2 separate regions of the Homo sapiens genome follow, and region 2 is linked to region 1. Evidence: fine-mapped expression QTL. A gene starts in region 1. The other region holds a variant in brackets. All regions are shown on one strand. Distances are from middle to middle.

The links. PIP is the estimated chance that this variant, and not a neighbour inherited with it, causes the effect.
Region 2: its variant is fine-mapped to the expression of DOCK1 in unexposed skin (GTEx, PIP 0.98).

Annotation. Positions count from the first base shown.
Region 1 is chr10:126,902,225-126,907,593 of GRCh38, forward strand. It overlaps DOCK1 (dedicator of cytokinesis 1), which reads left to right and starts at 3,204. Exons shown (of 52, transcript NM_001290223.2): 1 at 3,204-3,339. The coding sequence starts at 3,294. LOC105378550 (a long non-coding RNA gene) reads right to left here and starts at 3,154. Exons shown (of 2, transcript XR_946449.3): 1 at 2,336-3,154; 2 at 1-2,218. It overlaps LOC124900289 (a long non-coding RNA gene), which reads left to right and starts at 3,507. Exons shown (of 2, transcript XR_007062336.1): 1 at 3,507-5,369. RefSeq lists an enhancer at 4,225-4,973.
Region 2 is chr10:126,938,656-126,944,024 of GRCh38, forward strand. All of the region lies in intron 1 of DOCK1 (dedicator of cytokinesis 1), which reads left to right. Among named protein-coding and RNA genes, the nearest start is that of DOCK1, 36 kb to the left of the region's middle. The variant G/A (reference allele first, on the strand shown) is at 2,873.

The sequences.
Region 1 (5,369 bases):
CTACTCTGAAATCCCAGTGATGGGCAGCACTGAGCAACTGAGAGCCTCAGCATTCTTGGGCTTGTTCACACCCACAAGCTTGGCACAGATCCAAGTCCTGCAAGATGCCTGGGAGGGCAACTGAGACCTGTGGCCCAGCCACATTGACTCAGGAGGTAAAAATGTCAACAGGCCACAACCTCCAGGGCTCCTGGAATTGGAGACGAAGCCAGTTCTGAGCTTATGCAACCATAGGACAGTGAGAGAGGGCCATGGACTCGATTTAGAGCCACAAGATGAGAGCACTGCTGGAGCACCGTGGGGATGCTGACAAATCTTCTCAGGGCTTCAAGGACCGTGGCTACAGGTACATCTCAGCCAAACTTGGGCACATGTTGCAATCAAGGGACTGAAGCTACAACCACCTGGCCCGTGGTCCACCTGGAGTTTTGTTTTGTTTGTTTTTGAGATGGAGTCTCACTCTGTCACCCAGGCAGGAGTGCAGCGGTGCGATCTTGCTTCACTGCAATCTCCACCTCCTGGGTTCAAACAATTCTCCTGCCTCAGCCTCCTGAGTAGCTGGGACTACAGGTATGCGCACCCACGCCCAGCTAATTTTTGTATTTTTAGTACAGACAGGGTTTCTACTAAAACCCTGGTTGGCCAGGCTGACCTCGAGCTCCTGACCTCAAGTGATCTGCCTGCCTCAGCCTCCCAAAATGCTGGCTGGGATTACAAGCATGGGCCACTGTGCCCGGCCCCACCTGGAGTTTTAAAATTCTGATTTATAAATTTATTATATGACAGTCTACCAAAAGTATGCAAATCCGGCACTACACTTATTTATGCATTCAGTGAGTCACCTTTATCTGAGTGCAAGTGGCAACTGTTCTAGAAAATGGGAACCATGAGGTTATCAAAGAACCTGGAGGTAGGGTCAGATGAGGAAGCACATCATTATGATGTCTTACACATGCAGTCATGTCTCCTCTTATAATCCTAAGACTCACCTGTGAGATTCCTATTACAGCCCCTAGTTTACATGTAGGAATATCAGAACCCCAAGGTTTAGAAACAGAACGGCCAGAAACAGGAGGAGGATGGCCATGCAGCTGGGCGTGGCAAGGCCAGGCCTCCCAAGTCTGCATGACTCTTAAGCTCCTGGCCATTCGTTACAGCACGCCATCTCCAATGCAGAATCACACCAACAGAACTGAAACTGCACATTAAAGAGAAGGCGAGTGTCACCAAAATCTGTTTCCCAGGCTTCTTTGCAGAATTCCAAATTCCTAGCACGACCAATAAGGCCCTTCTTCTACCTCTGCAGCCTCAATTTATGTCACTTTCCTGTTGTTCCCTATGCTTCGGCCATCCTGGCCTTTCTGTGCTCTGAAGGAGTGGTGCTCCTTCCTAAACCAGGGCCTTTTCACGTGCTGTTCCCACTCCAGTTCACCTAGCTGGTTTCTGCTTATCCTTAAAGTCTGGGTTTATCTTATTTCCTCAAGGGAGGCCTCCCTGCTCTGGAGCAGGTCAGGCCACCATGTCCTTTACCGTAGAGCACCCTACTTGTCCTGGACAGCACCTTCACAGATGCTTCTCCTTCAAGGGGTCAGAGTCACCAGGCCACCACTACAGCGCCTGAGCCCCGGAGGTTTCTGATTTCCACAGAAAGCTTCAAGTGCATGCTGTGTGTGAGTGAGCCTGGCCACTTCCTCTGTGGGACTTCAGTTCCTTATCAGTAAAACAGAGCCCGTGGCTTTCCATGAATGTGGGGTTGACTTACCAGAATGCTCAGGTCCCACGTTATCCTCTTGAACGCAGCAGCTTTCCTCTAACCCACGAAAATGGAAAAGCTCCTGTGCCATTCCCAAATACTTATTTAATCTGCATTCTGGGTGGCCCCTAGGGCAGGTGACGGGCATTCTCTACCGCAGGATGGTGCCCCACCTGGTCCTCCCCAGGCCCTGTGGCCATCCTGGCCACCTCCCTGTGGGCTCTCCCAGCCCTGCTGTTCAGCACTGTCCCTACCTCACAGAGGTAGGGACCTCTTTTTCTTACCTTCTTCCTTTTCTTACCTTCGTTCCTCCAATCCCTGACGGCCCCCAGACCTACTGTAGTTGTCTCTGTGTCTTCGGAGAGAAGACACCCCATTAATGTGCCATGAAACCAAATTTATTCCATTTAAAGGGCTGCCTTCATTCGGAGGCTTTGTCCATGTCTTGGTTTTAACCTCTCTTTTCTGAAATTACAGTAAAAATAAATAGGTGTGTGTTGCTTTAACTTTTCCCTTGGAGAAATCTGAAGCCCCCACCTTTTACTGTCATGGGAAACACCAGGGCCTGAGAAGAACTCCCACCTCGGGCGAGGATGCCGTTCCTGAGCCCCACGCGTGGCCTGGGCTTTCCTTTCCCTACTTCTCTCTTCCCCCGACTTCAGCAGATCCTGAGTCCCACAACTATTCTAGCATTAGCTTCTGCAAGCCCAGCTGGGCTGAGGTTTCTGCGGCTGCTTCCTCTTGGTCTCTCTGGAAAACTCCACTCATTCAGCACCCAAGCAAGAGGTCACCTGTCTGGAACGCACTCCCTCGGCAGCGCTGTGCCACCTCTTTCCACCCCATTTGAGTGGCCGGCACTTACCTGTGCTGTTTGTTACCTGACGTGTCCCTTCTCCCACCTACCAGGCAGTTGGTGCGGCGCTCCCAGCACACTCGGGCAATGAGTGGGCAGGCGCTCAGGTAACGTTTGTCGAATGAATGAATGAGCCACGTGCTCAGGAGGACCCTTTCCAGAGCCTCTGCTGGTTTGTTCTGCTCCGGGACTCTCCACCAGGGAGAAATCCGAGCTGGGGACCTCGCACCACCAGGCTCCGGCCTAAGCCCGCGCCTTGCAAGCCGCCCGTTTCCTACCTCCCGTAGAAACCCCCCGTCCGTCCCGCCCCCCTAAGGGCGCACCCCTCTCACGGCGTGAGCGCCAGCCCCGGGAGCTCCAGGAACTCAGGAGAACCCCGCGGGGGTGCCCGGGTGCGGAGCGCGGGGCTGGGCGCACTGGGACAGAGGAAGGGGAGCCCCGGCGACCGCGGGGTCGGGGCCCAGGGTCCGCGCCGAGGGCGGGCGCAGAGCCCGCGGCCGTCCCGCCTCCCGCCGGCGCTCCCGGCCTTTCCCATCCGGCCCGCGACGCTCCGCCCGCCCCGTCCCACATGACGCCGCCTCCGCCGCAAACTTTTTCCTCCCCATCCTGTCGCGGCTCGAAAGGAATGGAAAATGGCGGCCTAGACGCGGAGTTTCCTGCCCGACCCGCGGCGGCTCCGGCGGCGCCATGACGCGCTGGGTGCCCACCAAGCGCGAGGAGAAGTACGGCGTGGGTGAGCAGCGCCGCCGCCGCCGCGCCTCTCGCCCCAAGCCCAGGCTCCGGCGGGGCGGGTGTGCCGGGCGCCTGTTGCCGCCGCCCCGAGCGGCCGCCGGGCCGGGGAGAGGCGCTTCCGCCCGCGCCCGCGCCGCCGCCCCGCTCGCAATGCCCGGCGACCCCGGCCGCCCCGCGCCCCCGGCGGCGTCAGCTCCAGCCCCGGGGATGCGGGTCGGGAACACGAGGGGGTGGGGTGGGAATGGGGGCGGGCGCGTCCCTCCCTAGGGTGTCCCCTCCGACGCCCGCTCCTCTGGACCTCTGCCGTGGAGCCCCCCGGGCTACCCCCAACTCCCCGGCCCCGGCCGCTGCTATCTGCGCGGCTGGGCCCGTCAGGGAAGCCCAGGGGTCACTGTCTCGCGGCGGCTTCTGCTTCTTGGATGAACTTGCGTCCCGCGTCCGGGCTCTGGGTGGGCGGGCTCAGGTCGGCGCGGTCCCAGCGGATAATTCCGCCCTTTCCCGGCGGGGAGGAGGGGGCGCGACCTGGGTGGCCAGCGCCCCTTGCCCCTCGGCGGTCTCGCTGGGGACCGTGTGGGACCTTGGAGAGAAGGCGAGCGGCCGAGCGCCCCAGTGGCCCCAGGCCTGGAGACCCTTCCGGGAGAGCGGGGGCCTGTTTTTGCTCCGCGGCTCTTTGTCGCTTCCGAGGGGGGATGGAAGGAGTCGGGTTGCAAGTTTACATTTCGGACCCGAGTGCGCATTCCTGAGAGGGAGGCTTTCCCTTGCGGCTGAATAGACGGGCCCGTCCGCGTGGGACCCGCATCCTTGCGCCCCGGGGACCCGCAGCCGGTCGCCGAGGCCTGCGGACGCCCACCTCTTCGTGATCTGCGCGCCTGGTGTCGGGACTGGGCCGTGGCTACTCTCCTGCTCTCCCGGGTCCGGGATCTTCCCAGTTGGTTTTCGGGCTTGCTATTCCCCGTCCCACCATCCACAGACATCCTTGACCGCCTGCCTCATCCAGGCCACTCGACCCGACTGGGAAGACCTTTGGTGGTCTCGCCTCCCACAGCCCAGGCTGTGTCCTCCAAGGGCACCGTCTCAGCAGCAGCCCCGCGCCCATTCTGTGCCTGGCCCGTGCTGGACCTGCCCGACCCTCTGCTGGTGTGGTTCGAATCCTGGCTCTCTGACTTTTGGGAAGCGCCCTGGCAGCCCTTGTCCCCGGAGCGCTCTCCTTTCTGTGAACAGTTGCTTCTCTCTGCTGTCAATGACTTACAGTATGCCCTGACCACGGAGCCAGCTGGACAGTGGTCACGGGGACAGTCCTGGGACAGCCCTGGGTCCTACCGGGCCTGCACTTAGCTTGTTCCACATGCTGGGAGGCATAGGGGGCCTCCTTGCTTCAGGACCATTATGACTGAGCTTCCTCCCCATCTCCCCATTTTGCAGATGAGGAAACTGAGGCCCAGACACATTCACAAAAGTGCAGGAGAGCTCATCTGACTGCAGACTCAGTGTGTAACCTGCACCCTGTGCACCACCTAATGGATTCAGTCTGGGGCACTTGGCACGGGCCTTCAGTCTGCATCAGAGGCGAGAGGTTCGGGGTGGATATTCCACCTGAGAATGCTTGGGTTGTGGCGACAGTGGGGGTCCCTGCGGGGGTAGTGTGTAGAGGAGAGAGCTGAGGACTGACTCCCAGGGAACCTAGCACCAGCACACGCAGAGAGAGAGGAAGAGGTGGATAGGCAGGAGAGGCAGGAGGCTGGCAGAGGAGCAGGCATCCCATAGCCCTGGCCCTGCTGAGGAAGCAACTTAGGTGCCCATGGCCAGGGTGCAGTAGTGGCCATTGGGGGTGTAGTGGGGGCCATCGGGGTGCAGTGGGGGCCATCACTGCTCCCATTCTACAGAGGCAAGGAAGAGGTGGATTGCTTGCCTGAGGTCACATCACCAGTAAGTGGTGCCTCCTGGGTGTGAAGTGTGGCCGCCCTGGGTTCAGCTGCCACAGTGTCCTGTGCTTGCCTGCAGATGGGGAGGGCTTCTCTTTGGGACGCCACA
Region 2 (5,369 bases), 36 kb after region 1:
TCCAAGATCAAGGCACTAGCAAATTCTGTGTCTAATGACGGCTGCTCCCTGCTTCCAAAATGGCACCTTGCTGCTACATTCTCCAGAGGGGATGAACACCGGAGGGGATGAAGACAGGAGGGGATGAACACCAGCGGGGATGAGCACCGGAGGGGATGAACACAGGAGGGGACGAACACAGGAGGGGATGAACACCAGAGGGGATGAGCACTGGAGGGGATGAACACAGGAGGGGACGAACACAGGAGGGGACGAACACCTGAAAGGATGAACACGGGGGGACGAACACTGGGGGGGCGAACACCTGGGGGGACAAACACCGGGGGGGATGAGCACCGGAGGGGACGAACACCGGAGGGGATGAACACCTGAAGGGATGAACACGGTGGGGGGATGAACACCGGGGGGGGGACGAACACCGGAGGGGACGAGCACCGGAGGGGATGAACACAGGAGGGGATGAACACCGGAAGGGATGAACACTGTGCCCTCACATGGCAGAAGGGATGCAAGGGAAGGAACCCCCTTCCTTAAGCTCTTCTATAAGGGGCCTGATTCCATCCGTGAAGGTTTCATCCTCCTGATTTAGTCACCCCTCAAAGTCCCACCATTTAAAACGATGACATTGGCTATTGAGTTTCAACACATGAATTCTGGGGGACATCAGACCATAGCAGTAGCTTTGTACTAAATTTTGAAATCAGGAAGTGCAAGTCCGCTAGCTTTGTTCTTTTTCAAGATTGTTTTGGCTATTCAGGGTCCTTTGAGATTTCATCTAAATTCTAGGATGAATTTTTCTATTTCTGCATGTACCTGTTTACTTTTGCTGTATTTCTTAGGCTGGTAGGTTAAGGGACATCAGTGTTTTTACTTTAACTTAAAGTTATCTTTTAATTTTTCTCTCGTTTGTAGCAGCTTGATTTAGTAATCACTCACCTCAGGTGATCCTCCTGCCTCGGCCTCCCAGAGTGCTGGGATTACAGGCGTGAGCCACCGCGCCTGACCCAAAATACCTATTTTAGAAAACAAACTCTTCAGTCCAGATGAGTCCGAGTCGTCACGAGACCAGTGTTCTGTGATGGGCTGTAGTTCAGGGAAGTGGATTAGTGCTGCTGCTTTCATTCCTTTGGATGCTTTGGTTTGGTGTTTGTTAATCCCAGAAGTCAGATTATTAGGCCTTTCTGTATTTGGGTCCCTCTCTCGGCAGCTGTAAGTGTGACGCATGTCCCCAATGAAGGAGACTGCTTCCTTTGTCCTTTGAAGGCCACGCCTACCTTGTTGCCTGAATAGGAGCCTCCATGAGCTGGTGGCTGCATTTAGCCCTGAGTTGGGGCTGGCATTGGGAGAGTCTAGGGTAAGACAGATTTGGAGGAGAAGCAAGAAGGAGAAGGGTGCAACTCCTCTCTAGTGCCTTTCCAACCTTTGAGAATTGTTTTTCACAAATGATGTTTTTGCCTCTAATCTGGTTATTTCTTTGTAGTCTCAGTAATGGATAAGAAATTTGCCCTGTGAATTAATCACGGTTTACAGGGATGATGGCAGAATCAAAGTATTTGGGGATTCAGTGATTTGCCTTGCTTTGTAATTTTGGTTTAATTTGCAGTTGGGAGTTGATTGAGAATAATTTGGAATAAAACTGTTCTAGAAGGAAGACATCCATGCAAACCATTCTGTTTATTCTTTCAAACCAGGTGGTTTTCCATATTAGATGACAGGAGTCTGCAGCACTTCGTACTCAATATTCAGAGTATGTGTTTTATTTATTTTGTGGAGACAGGGTCTCTGTCACCCAGGCTGGAGTGTAGTGGTATAATCTCGGCTCACTGCAACCTCTGCCTCCCGGGTTCAAATGATTCTCCTGCCTCAGCCTCCCAAGTACCTGGGATTACAGGCGCCTGCCACCATGCCCGGCTAATTTTTGTATTTTTAGTAGAGACGGAGTTTCACCATGTTGGCCAGGCTAGTCTCGAACTCCTGACCTCAAGTGATCCACCCACCTCAGCCTCCCAAAGTGCTGGGATTATAGGCGTGAGCCACTGCGCCTGGCCCAAAGTACCTATTTTAGTAAACAAACTCTCAGTTCAAATAAGTCAGAGTGCCTTTTTTTGTAGTTGGCCAGGGTTTGTGTAATTAGTTTATCAAGTAAAATTTGACTTGTATTGACAAGAACTGGAGTTGTGATAGCAAACAGTAATTGCTAACTCTATCTTATCAGGGAAATCAAAAGCGTCTATTGAATTACAGTGACTCTATTATATTGCCCTGTAACCTCACCAAGATGATTCTTCGGAGGATGATTAAATGTAGTCATGAATCCATATATATGAGAAAGCAAACAGATGGATAAACAACCAAAGTAATTATCATCTGTACATTCACATTTTTCCATCACAATATTTCAGGGACCTGCTGGTCCAGAGTCATCTGTTTGGTCATTGTCTGGGAGGATGACATTCTTCATAAAATGTGCTCGGTTGGTTTATCTGCCGTGCAGTGTTACCAGAGGGCATTTCAGCTGTTTAAACTCCCAGAAAGTGTTGGTAGCTTCCTTGTTTTTATTGGTGTCTAGTGGACACAGGGGACAAGAGTAAGTTTGATGGGATGTATCCTGTGGTTATGAGAGGAGATGCTATACTGTGTAAAGAAACCTCTAAAAACCAGTTTAAAAAGATTGTTTTATGGATAGATTGCATTACCTAAATTCTGATGAAATATTTCATTTCATGGTGCTAGTTTTAACTTTAGTCTTTTAAAACACAAAAGTAAAACCAATCCAACAACAAAAACATCTTCAAAACCGCAGTTAAACAGCATCTGTGGGCCGGGCACAGTGGCTCATGCCTGTAATCCCAGCACTGTGGGAGGCCAAGGC[G/A]GGCGGATCACGAGGTCAGGAGATCGAGACCATCCTGGCTAACACGGTGAAACCCTGTCTCTACTAAAAGTACAAAAAATTAGCCAGGCGTGGTGGCGGGTGCCTGTAGTCCCGCTACTCGGGAGGCTGAGGCAGGAGAATGGCGTGAACCCGGGAGGCGGAGCTTGCAGTGAGCCGAGATCGTGCCACTGCACTCCAGCCTGGGCGACAGTGCGAGACTCCATCTCAAAACAGACAAAACAAAACAAAACAAAACAAAAAAAACAGCATTTGTGGATTGTACCTGTCTGAGTAGTGTATAATCACCTTTCCTAGACAACTTTGCCTTTCTCAGCCCGCCTTTGCAGGTGAGGTGCTCAGACTTAAAAGTCCCATGGGAAGATAATTTTGCCAATTATTCTCTTTTAAGCTGCTTTGTTTAAAGGATTCTAAAGTCACATCATGAGGAGGGGAGAGCCAAGAGGGTGTCGGATGTGTGTTGTCACTCTGATATTTGCTCTTTTTCTTTTTTTTTTGAGACGGAGTCTCGCTCTGTCGCCCAGGCTGGAGTGCAGTGGCACGATCTCGGCTCACTGCAAGCTCTGCCTCCCGGTTTCACACCATTCTCCTGCCTCAGCCTCCCGAGTAGCGGGACTACAGGCGCCCGCCACCACGCCCGGCTAATTTTTTGTACTTTTAGTAGAGACAGGGTTTCACCATGTTAGCCAGGATGGTCTCGATCTCCTGACCTCGTGATTCACCTGCCTCGGCCTCCCGAAGTGCTGGGATTATAGGTGTGAGCCACCGCGCCCAGCCGATATTTGCTCATTTTCTGAGTGTTTTGTGAGTCCTGAGGAATGAGCTCAAGGAGGAGATGGGTTCATTCCTTCTTCTAGGTTTCTTTTCGAGTGGGGTGAAGCTCACTTTTAGTTTCAGGTGGAAGCTGTGCACTGGATTCATTTGGGAGCAGGTTGGCAGGTAGAACAGTAGAATAAATCGTGAAGACCTACAAGCGTTAGAATGCGAGAGGAATGGATGGAGCTGCTCCTTCCTTCTGATTTGCAGGAAGTTTCCTTAATGGAACGAGCCAGCCCCGAGGGAGCCGAGCCAGCCCCGAGGGAGCCGTCATCTGGGACCCTGGGATCTGCGATGCAGCAGAGTTCCATTATCCCGTTTATTTTTACTGTAAATACACTCAATGTTACACAAATTCATTAAAAGATAAGCATGATCTGTCCTGTTGGGAAGCTTCTAATGGAAAGTAGGGGATAGCTGATGATTCCTCTGGATGGGCGTTTATTTGCAAGATGTTTCTTTCCAGAAAATGCTTAACTAGATTACATGTTTCATGACCTCAGTATAAATTCTTTTAGTTTTCCTGACCTTTTGTGATTTTAGTTACTATCCTAAAATATATTGATTTCTTTTTCTTGTTCATCTAGAAATGATCATTAAAAACAAACAAATAGGCCGGACGTGGTGGCTCACGCCTGTAATCTCAGCACTTTGGGAGGCTGAGGCTGGTGAATCATTTGAGGTCAGGAGTTCAAGACCAGCCTGGCCAACATGGTGAAATCCTATCTCTACCAAAAAAAAAAAAAGCCAGATATGTTGGTGTGTGCCTGTAATCCCAGCTACACTGAGGCAGAGGCAGGAGAATCATTTGAACGTGGGAGGCGGAGACTGCAGTGAGCAGAGATTGTGCCACTGCACTCCAGCCTGGGTGACAGAGAGAGACTCCATCTCAAAAAATAAAAACAAACAAATGAAAGGTTTAAGACCTTCTTTGAACCTGACTGCCTTACTTTCTTTGGCAAGCTAATTTTTCTGAGGTCAAGAGAGTAGGTGCTGGAACCAAACTGCTTGGGATCAGATCCTAGACCTAGCACTGGTTGACCTGAGGCAAGTTAATCTCTGTGTGCAGCCTTTCTGTTAAATGGGAGTAGTAATAGTGGTTGTAGCATAAGATTGAGGTTAAACGAGTAAGTGTATGTAAGCACCTACTGAATGCTATTTAAGTTAATGCAATCATTCAGTGGATTTCGGCTAAATTCATGCATTCAGTAAATATTTACCCTGTGCCTGCAAAATGACTGCTGTGTGCTTGGCCCTGGGATACAATAGGGACTGAAGTAGATATGGGGGATTGGCAAGTAAGTAGGCAGCCACAAGACAGCTGTGAATGGTAGGAGGGAGAAAGGACTACCAAGGGAGGCTTCCTGGAAGAAGCGGCTTTTTAAATAGGTGCTTTGAAGAGATTAGATATGAGTTAATGAGATGAAGAGGGGTAGGAAGGAGTAGCATCAGTTTAGCTGAGGGCCCTGAGGTGCAAGAGTGCACAGACCACTGAAGTTCAGTCTGGGTGAGTCGAGGCGAGGCTGGGTGCCAAGCAGGGTCGTCCCAAGCTGTCTGGAGGAATTTGGACTTAATGCTCAGAGCAGTGGCTGGTGATTGAAAGGTTCAGAGTGGATGATTCTTGAAGGGTCCAGAGCTATATCAGATTTTGTTGCAGGAAGAG